2 linked regions of the Homo sapiens genome follow. The protein of the gene in region 1 purifies or fractionates together with the protein of each later gene. This does not show direct contact. Each region holds a gene or a part of one and is shown on either strand. Other genes may lie near its edges.

What was found. Proteins that work in one complex are often made in the same cells at the same time.
Region 2: the proteins of SETD4 (region 1) and PMM2 purify together in Homo sapiens (affinity purification with mass spectrometry; one large-scale study listed by BioGRID and IntAct). This does not show direct contact.

Annotation. Positions count from the first base shown.
Region 1 is NC_000021.9:36,057,131-36,062,707, forward strand, and holds the start of SETD4 (SET domain-containing protein 4), read right to left. Parts: upstream 3,397-5,577; 5' UTR 3,217-3,396; exon of another isoform or gene 2,692-3,216; intron 1,844-2,691; exon of another isoform or gene 1,795-1,843; 5' UTR 1,759-1,794; coding exon 1,686-1,758; intron 348-1,685; exon of another isoform or gene 255-347; coding exon of another isoform or gene 254-254; intron 75-253; coding exon 1-74. UniProt on the Homo sapiens protein: Protein-lysine N-methyltransferase that methylates both histones and non-histone proteins. Via its catalytic activity, regulates many processes, including cell proliferation, cell differentiation, inflammatory response and apoptosis.
Region 2 is NC_000016.10:8,800,040-8,804,404, forward strand, and holds part of PMM2 (phosphomannomutase 2), read left to right. Parts: intron 1-1,759; coding exon 1,760-1,871; intron 1,872-4,365. UniProt on the Homo sapiens protein: Involved in the synthesis of the GDP-mannose and dolichol-phosphate-mannose required for a number of critical mannosyl transfer reactions.

The sequences.
Region 1 (5,577 bases):
GTTTGAATCTTGAAACTTCCTAGCTTTCAGCCACTTCCTCAGCTCTATAAATTCAGACTTGTGGCTCTCATTCACTATCAGGCAAGGAGAGAACAAATGGTGATTAAAACCACTATATAATCGGATTACCATTTTTAAAAGAACATGTCTGATGAAATGTGTCAGACAGACTTACACAATAGTAAGAATTGGTGTATCTAAACATAGAAAAGTTACAATAAAAACACAGTATTGGCCAGGCGCAATGACTCACTTCTGTATTCCCAGCATTTGGGAGGCCAAGGCGGGAGGACTGCTTGAGGCCAGGAGTTTGAGCCCAGCCTGCCCAACACAGAAAGACCCCATCTCTTAAAAAAAAAAAAAATACAATATTATAATCTGAGGACCACCACTGTACATGTGATCCATCAACCAAAACATACTTATGCAACATACGACTATATTCATTCAATGTAATCCTAATCAAAATTCAAGCAGGCTTTCATACAGGAATTAACAAGATGATCCCAAAATTCATGTGGAAATGTAAAAAGCCTAGAATAGCCCCAATATCTTTGAAAGATTGATTTTAAAACTTATTATAAAGCTACAGTAATCAAATTAGTGTGATATTGTCAAAACAGACACAAATAGGTCAAAGGAACAACACAGAAAATAGGAAGAGGTCCACACGTAAATTTTTGACAAAGTGCAAAGGCAAATCAGTGGAAGAAGATAGTCTTTTCAATAAATGATGATCAAACAACTGGACCTCCATCAGCAAAAAAAAAAGTGAGCTTATCGATATCTTGTACCATATCCAGTTGGATTTACATAGGACTTTCCAGATGGCCAAGCACTTTTGTATTGAACAAGATACAGTATCTTCTTCAGACAGGGTTACCCTGAATTTGAAGTCATAAATTTACATCCAAACATTGATATCCTACAGATAGCTGAAGGTCAAGACCAGAAAAAGAAAGTTGGGAGTCATCCCCAGAGAAGACAGTTGAAACAATGAGTTAGTTATCTTCACATTCCCACCAGGATCTAAAAGAATACAATGGCACCATTAAAAAAGAGTGTTATTTAAGAAATATTCTCTTTGGGCTGGGCACAGTGGCTCACACCTGTAATCCCAGTGCTTTGGGGAGGCCAAGGCAGGAGGACCACTCGAGCCCAGGAGTTCAAGACCAGCCTGTGCAACATAGACCCTGTCACTACAACAAATTTAAAAAAACATTAGCCGGGTGCAGTGGCATGTACCTGTAGTCCCAGGTACTTGGGAGGCTGAGGCAGGAGGGAGGCTAAGGGAGGAGATCACTTGAGCCTGGGAGATCAAGCCATGATCACGCCACTGCATTCCAATCTGGGTAACAGAATGTACCTTGTCTCCAAAAAAAAAAAAAAAAGAAAGATTCTCTTTGAACACTGTGTGCCTTTGAGAAAAGCTATGTGTTAGGCCGAGCATGCTGGCTCACGCCTGTAGTCCCAGCTACTTGGGAGGCTGAGGCAGGAGAATCGCTTGAACCGGGGAAGCAGAGGTTGCAGTGAGCCAAGATGACACCACTGCACTCCAGCCTGGGTGACAGAGCGAGAATCCGTCTCAGAAAAAAGAAAGAAAGAAAGAAAAGCTACGTATGAACAAACAAGCAATCACAAAAGGATTTCTTTTTTCATTACTGGTACTAAAAGAAAAACCATACCTCCTCTTGATTCAGAACTTCCGCAGAGTTTTCGTCTTCTGATCCGGCTTGTTCTCCCTTTTCCTTTCTGCATGCTAAAACTGTAGTTTCTTTTTTCTGAAATACAGTTCTATTTTTTCAAAAAGGACAAAACTGTAATTTCTGTGGAAATGCTCAATCTAAAATAAAAAACATTTCTTTGATTTACTTTCCAGTTATATGATAATCACTGTTCTTTGTACCTTTAAGTATACAAATGTATGTTTTGGTAAACTGTTTCTCTCAAGTGCTTTTGTACATGAAACGTTTATACTGTGAGCTAAATCATGATCCCTACAGTAACAGAATTCCCATTATATCAGTCCCTCTAAAACAGTTTTATCTTGCAGACCTAGTGACTACAGCTTAATCTACTAAAAATACAAAAAATAGCTAGGCGTGGTGGCACACGCCTGTAATCCCAGCTACTTGGGAGGCTGAGGCAGGAGAATCGCTTGAACCTGGGAGGCGGAGGTTGCAGTGAGCCGAGATCGCGCTACTGCACTCCAGCCTGGGCGACAGAGCGAGGCTCCGTCTCAAAAAAATAAAAAAATAAATACATAAATAAAAATAAAATAATGGCTGGGTACAGTGGCTCACGCCTGTAAAACCAGCACTTTGGGAGCCCGAGGCGGGCTGAGGTCAGGAGTTCAAGACCAGCCTGGCCAACATGGTGAAACCCCGTCTCTACTAAAAATACAAAAATCAGCCGGGCGTGGTGGCAGGCACCTGTAATACCAGCTACTGGGGAGGCTGAGGCAGGAGAATCGCTTGATCTCAGGAGGCGGAAGCTGCAGCTAGACGAGATCACGCCACTGCACTCCAACCTGGGCGACAGAGCGAGACTCTGTCACAAAAAATAAATTAAAAAAATAAAAATAAAAAATAAATCTACTTCTAAAACATACGAGGGCAGAAATGAGCAAGAGACAAGAACTCCAGGCAATATTAATACCGCACTTCCGCAGTATAAGGTTCATTATTTGACCTAACGAAAGTCGGCATGTCCAGCTCCAGAGGCGAACGGCGGCTGGTTCGGTGCGGGTCCCAGCGCTCAGTCCACAGACCGCGCCGGGAAGTGTCCCCAAGACTCCCGGGCCCTCGCGCGAGCTGTCCACCATCACCCTGCTGAGGACCACGTGAAGCCCGGTGACCGCCACAGACACAGGCACCGTCCCCGCCCCCATAGTCCTCAAACTCTAGCCGTGAGGCCGTCCTACGGTCCGACACACACCGCTCCCGCAGCCATAGGCCAGCCAGGCGAGCATCGGACCTCGGGCCTCAGGCTCCTCAGCTTTACGCAGCGCGCCGGAGCAACATGCGCTAAGTGTAGGACTCCACAAGATGAGAGGTTACTGCAGCGCACACGATAATGCCTGCCCTGGAGGGGACCTGCGACCTAAACTCAGTTCTTTTTACGCTGATGAATGAAAGACTAAGGAACGCACCCCGCCGACTCTGCTCCCGTTACCCGGGCAACTGGAGGCCCGACCCGGAAGTCCTACTAGCTCACCTAGGCGCCGGCGGCCGCTTCCAAGATGGAGGCTGCAGTGGGCGGGCCCAAGGCACGTGGAAATACCAAACAGCCCCAGATGAAGGCAAGTTAAAGGAACCGGCCAAAACTGCAGAGGGAGAGGCTGAAGGCTGTCGCGCCTGCCTGGTGTCCTTAAGCAATCCAAGTCCTCAGTCTCCCGGGTCCGCCCCTTCCGCCGCGGGCGGCAGCTTCCGGCTCGCGCATGCGCAGTGTTCGCGGACTCGCCGCCAACGCCCAGTACAGTCGGGGACGAGGTCGGCACACCCACAGCCCCATAACCCCTACGTCGAGTCAGGGGTCAGAAAACCCAGTAACCCGCAGGCGAGCAAGCTGCGCACTGAAAAGCCGGCCTGCGGAGTCTTTCCTTACGAAGTTAAACCACCTAGGGCGCGCGGCCCTGTTCGCCCAGACCTCGGGCTTTCCTGCCAGGCTGGGTTTGCCGGGTCGAGTCACTTTGCTCGCCAATCCCCGCCCCCATTCCACCGTTTCATTCTGGCCCCAGGACCCGCCTCACAGGAAAATTCTAAATAATATATCTAAATACCCCTTCTTCCAATAGCGGGAGCTCGATTTCTGCCCCACCCACCCCCACTTTGATTATGGGCTATGCCTAGTAACTTGATTCCAAAGAGTACAGCCTGGAATGGTGTTGGGGACTACAGTGGAGAAACCTGGCAAACAGTACCTTACCGGGTGGTCAAGGATAACATCAGGAAGAAATCATGCTGATAGCATGTTCCTGTGGTGTCTCTCTCCAAAACCCTTCTATGGAAATCTTCTATGGGGGAAAAAAAATTAGTACTCCTAAACATGTTTTCTGTCATGAAAAACAAGTACAGTTGTCCCTTAGTGTCCGTGGGGGAATGGTTCCAGGACCCTGCGGATACCAGAATTAGAATGCTCAAGTCCCTTGTATACAATGGTGTAAACCTAAGTAACAAAAGAGGCTCCCTAAAAGAAAATGAGATTTATCTGGGAGTAGCATTGCAATGGGAATATGCATGCCATAGTAAACTGTGTGCGTTTTGGGGGAGGTTGAGGCAAGGAGATGTTTTTAAAAGGAAAATGAAGATTATATGAATTGCTTTAAATCAATTATCTTTGGCTAAAAGAATGAATAACAAAGGTAGCATCAGTCCAAAGTTGCTGGACAGATGTCCTTGCAGAAGGATTTTCTGTGTTTAAGATTGGGCCTTTCTGCAAGGTTAGGGTCTTTTGTGACAATTCTTGTTATGAGGCGTAGTGCATGAGAACCCTTCCTTCAAGGCCTTCCCCAGCTGCATTTATCAGGGTTTTGACACAAGTGACTCCATTTTGATTCTGCAACTTTCACAATGGTGTAATATTTGCATATAACCTATGCACATCCTCCCATATACTTTAAATCATCTCTAGATTACTTATAACATCTAATACAATGTAAATACTATGTAAATAGTGAAGGGGTGGCCTGCCGCTCCACACCTGTGGGTGTTTCTCATCGGGTGGGATGAGAGACTGAGAAAAAAAAGAGACACAGAGGCAAAGTATAGAGAAAGAAAAGTGGGCCCAGTGGACCGGCGCTCAGCATACGGAGCACAAATCCTATTTAAACTACAGATTCTAAACACAAATGATTTTATTCACCCCTGCCCCCCAACACTAAAAGATTTAAACACTAACATAGTTTCTAACAGCTGTAAACTAAACAAATCCTAAGCCCCTACTGACTGAATGGAACCCCTTTTGGCCAAGATGGCCCCAGAAAAAAACTTAGAAACTTAGTTCCCAGCCCTGATGGAATGTGAGGTCAGACATGCCTCATTATACCCTCTCTCTTTTACAGTTTAGATACAACTGGCCAGCATTGATGTTAAAATAGAGACCATGAGACTGATGGAACAGACTTTTTGTGGCAATAAGATACAAAAATTATAAACAAGACCTAAGGCCATTCCAGGAAAGAGTTAAGTCACTTCAAGAATAAATTCTGTTCTAATGGTTACAAGTTTTTTCTTTTTCTCTAGCAGCTAAACAAGCACTCACCTCCACCTAAGCAATATTAAAACAATTACCGCTTGTGCACCACCAGATGTTAACTAACCCCCTGTTCCACAATGACAGAGCATCACCATCTTGGACAACCCCCTCATTCTAAAGTGCACCTTAATAAAAAACCGCCTAGGCCAGGTGCGGTGGCTCACGCCTGTAATCCCAGCACTTTGGGAGGCCGAGGTGGGCAGATCACGAGGTCAGGAGATCGAGACCATCCTGGCTAATTCGGTGAAACCCCATCTCTACTAAAAATACAAAAAATTACCCGGGCATGGTGGTAAGCGCCTGTAGTCCCAGCTACTTGAG
Region 2 (4,365 bases), on another chromosome or scaffold:
TTTTTGTATTTTCTAAATTTCTAGTAAAAAGATATTCAGCCGGGCACGGTAGTTCATGCCTATAATCCCAGCACTTGGGGAGGCTGAGGCGGGTGGATCACTTGAGGTCAGGAGTTCGAGACCAGCCTTGCCAACATGGTGAAACCCAGTCTCTACTAAAAATACAAAAAGATTAGCCGAGCATGATGGCGGGCGCCTGTAATCCTGGCTACCTGGGAGGCTGAGACAGGAGAATCGCTTGAACCCAGGAAGTGGAGGTTGCAATGAGCCGAGACCACACCATTGCACTCCAGCCTGGGTGACAGAGCACGACTTCGTGTCAAAAAAAAAAAAAAAAAGACATTCAGTGTAAATGTACAACTGAGATTGCTCAAAGTGCTGAGTTATAAGACTTGTAAAAATACATTGTGATGTGTCTTAATGTAGGGCTATTTTTTCATCTTAGTTTATAACTTTTTTAAAATTATCACACAGTTTGGAATTTACCATAAGATTATACCACTAAGACCACTCTTTCTAGATAGGAGCTTTGCTTTTAGAAGAGACTAAAAAATCTAGTTATCTTACTCTTTTACATTTTTGTTTTGTTTTGGGTGATTGCAATAAAATCAATTCTAAGCTTCTCCTTTTTTTTTTTTTTTTGTTTTGTTTTGTTTTGTTTTGAGACGAAGTCTCGCTCTGTGACCCAGGCTGGAGTGCAGTGGCACGATCTTGGCTCACTGCAACCTCTGACTCCCGGGTTCAAGTGATTCTCCTGCCTCAGCCTCCCGAGTAGCTGGGACTACAGGCGCCCACCAGCGCGCCCGCCTAATTTTTGTATTTTTAATAGAGACAGGGTTTCGCCACGTTGGCCAGGCTGATCTCGAACTCTGACCTCAGGTGATCCACCCGCCTCGGCCTCCTAAAGTGCCGGGATTACAGGCATGAGCCTCCATGTCTGGCCCTAAGCTTCCTCTTTAATTTCATTATGTTGTTTTATTTTAAAATCAACAACTTAAATCCATAAATGGAGTATAGTGTAGCATTTAAAAGGAATGATGAGCTAGATCTGTGTTGGCATGAAAAGATCACCACAGCATAGTGCTGAAAAACCAAAGTCCCTGCACAGGACATGATTCCATTTATGTTTCAAAAATAAGACCTATTTGTATATGTGCCCATAGATGGGTATATAAATGCATAGAAAAATAGCTGGGACAGTGCACAACAGCTACTAACATATTACCTGTGTTTAAAATTTGGTAAAAATAACACTTAAGTTTATTCTGGTAAAGATGCCCCCCCAGTTACAACTAAAATATTTGAACTATGTACAGAGCTGGTAACTTAATTGGCATGTATGAAAATAAGGCTTATAGACCTGGCTTATACCTGTAATCTCAGCACTTTGGGAGGCCAAGGCTGGTGGATCTCCTGAACCCAGGAGTTCCAGACTGGCCTGGGCAACATGGCAAAACTTAGTCTCTACAAAATATAAAAAAATTAGCCAGGTGTGCTGGCACATAACTATGGTCCCAGCTACTCAGGAGGCAGAGATAGGAGGATCACCGGAGTCCAGGGAGGTCGAGGCTGCGATGAGCTATGACCATGCCACTGCACTCCAGCTTGGGTGACAAGTGAGACCCTATCTCAAAAAAAAATTTTTTCTTTAATTTTTAAATAAGAAAATAAGACTTATGTACTTGTGTTACCCTTAGAGTTTTGGTCTCCTGATTATTGTGTGGCTTATGACTGTTGTATTTTCTTTCTTGAAATTTAGAAAATTACCAAAGAAATGGATGACTTCCTACAAAAATTGAGGCAGAAGATCAAAATCGGAGTGGTAGGCGGATCGGACTTTGAGAAAGTGCAGGAGCAACTGGGAAATGATGGTAAATGATGGGTTGCTAATTACATCTGGTAAAAGATTAACTTCTTATGAGGATATTGTTGCCAAGTATCATAGGCTGCCCTAAAACCTTGTCCCCATATGGCGGGCTTTCTGCTTCCTTTTTTGGGAAACATTTTCTTGGCCTTTGCTTTTCCTCTGCTTTTAATCCAGTACATTTCTGGAGTTACTGATGGAGAACTGGGTACTCAGATGTGTGAGTAGATTCACCTAGAAAGGTCAGTGGCTGTATCTGCACATGATAATCTCTCTGCCTGGAATACTTCTTGCTTGTACCCGTTGACAGCCCTTCTAGCCCCAGTCAGACCGGTCTTCATATTGTCCCTCTGACAGCCCCCCTCACCTCCCCATCACTGAAACAGAATCTCCAGCACAGGACCCCGAAAAACCAGAGAGGCTTATTGACCCCTTCACTGGAGAGTCTGACTTGATAGGTCTGTGGAGCCTGGGAATCCTATTTCAGTGAGTACCTCTGAGAGATTCTAGTGTACAACCTTGCTAATGTAGCATTCTGTAATTATTGTAAACTATCCGATTATATGTTTTTGAAGAGCAGGAGTATGGGTTATTCATCTCCATAGCCACAGGGCCTCCTGGCCTGTAAGAAATTGTAAGTGGATGCCAGGCGCGGTGGCTCACGCTTATAATCCCAGCACTTGGGGAGGCCGAGGCGGATGGATCACCTGAGGTCAGGAGTTTGAGACCAGCCTGGCCGACATGATCAAACCCCATTTCTACTAAAACTACAAAAAATGAGCTGGGCGTGATGACGGGCACCTGTAATCCCAGCTACTCAGGAGGCCGAGGCAGGAGAATTGCTTGAACCCAGGAGGCAGAGGTTGCAATGAGCCGAGATCACACCATTGCACTCCAGCCTGGGCAATAAGAACGAAACTCCGTCTTGGAAAAAAAAAAAAATTATAAGTGGAGAGGTGGATGAATTGATTGTTCTTTTAACCCCTGTTGTCCCCAGAGTCCTCACATCTTGGAACCAGCTCCTCTAGAGCAAGATTTCTCACCTTCGCACTATTGATATTTTGGACCAGTTAGTTCTCCATTATGAAGGCTGTCCTGTGCATTGTAGGGTCTTTAGCAACATCCCAGGCCTCTACCCACTAGATGCCCACAGCATACACACACGCACACATACGGCTATGACTACCAGAAATGTCTCCAGACATTGCCAAATGACCTCTGTGTAAAATTACCCCCGTTTGAGAACTACTGTTCTCAAAGATGTAATATGTTACAGTCCAAATCTGTATGGACTGTATTTATAGGATCACCATTACTAGAAGAGTAATCTCTGCAATCTCTTTAAAACTCTCTCTTCCACTTCCACTTCATTTTCCTGGTAGATCTCCTACTTAGAAATGCTATAAACCGCATACTGGGGATCACGAAGCCCTGAAAATCCTGTTACCTGCTCATGATCGCCCTTTCTGCATCTAGTTGTGTATTTAACCACTTGCTCAGGGAAGTTTTGTGTAGTGTAGCATAGTGTCTGCACCTGTCAGAGACATGCAACAATAGAATCAAAACATTCACAGGCCAAAAGACAGTTGAAGGCCCACCTGTATCAGAATCACCTGGGAAGCTTATTAAAATATGAGTGTGGGGTCCCCACCCAACACATAGGGGATCTGCATTTTAACAGGTACCTGAAGTTTGAGAATCCCTTCATTAAGGTTGACAACATGGATAGTTTCCAAACCAAACTGATTATAAGAATCACTGAAGAGCTTTTTTTAAAATTTATTTTATTTATTTATTTATTTTTATTTTTTTGAGACAGTCTTATTCTCTGGTGCAGTGGCACAATCTTGGCTCACTGTAACCTCTGCGTCCTGGGTTCAAGTGATTCGTGTGCCTCAGCCTCCGAAGTAGCTGGGACTACAGGCGCCCACCAGCACGCCCGGCTAATTTTTGTATTTTTAGTAGAGACGGGGTTTTACCATGTTGGCCAGGCTGGTCTTGAACTTGCGACCTCAGGTGATCTGGCCACCTTGGCCTCCCAAAGTGCTGGGATTACAGGCATGAGTCACCGTGCCTGGCCACCAAAGGTCTTTTAGTGCTTTGTTTTTTGTTTTTTGGGTTTTTTTTGTTTTTTTTTTTTTTTTTTTTGACGTTAGACAGAGTCTTGCACCGTTGCCGAGGCTGGAGTGCAGTGGCACAATCTTGGCTCACTGAACCCTCTGCCTCCTGGGTTCAAGCAATTCTCCTGCCTCAGCCTCCGGAGTAGCTGGGGTTACAGGCGCACACCACCATGCCTGGCTAATTTTTTGTATTTTTAGTAGAGACGGGGGTTTCACTATGTTGGCCAGGCTGGTCTGGAACTCCTGACCTAGTAAAACCCCGCCAGCCTCAGCCTCCCAAAGTGCTGGGATTACAGGTGTGAGCCACACCGCACCCGACCCAAAGAGCTTTTTTAAAAATATATTTAGCCTGTCCCTCAGCAATTCTGATTCAGGAAGCGA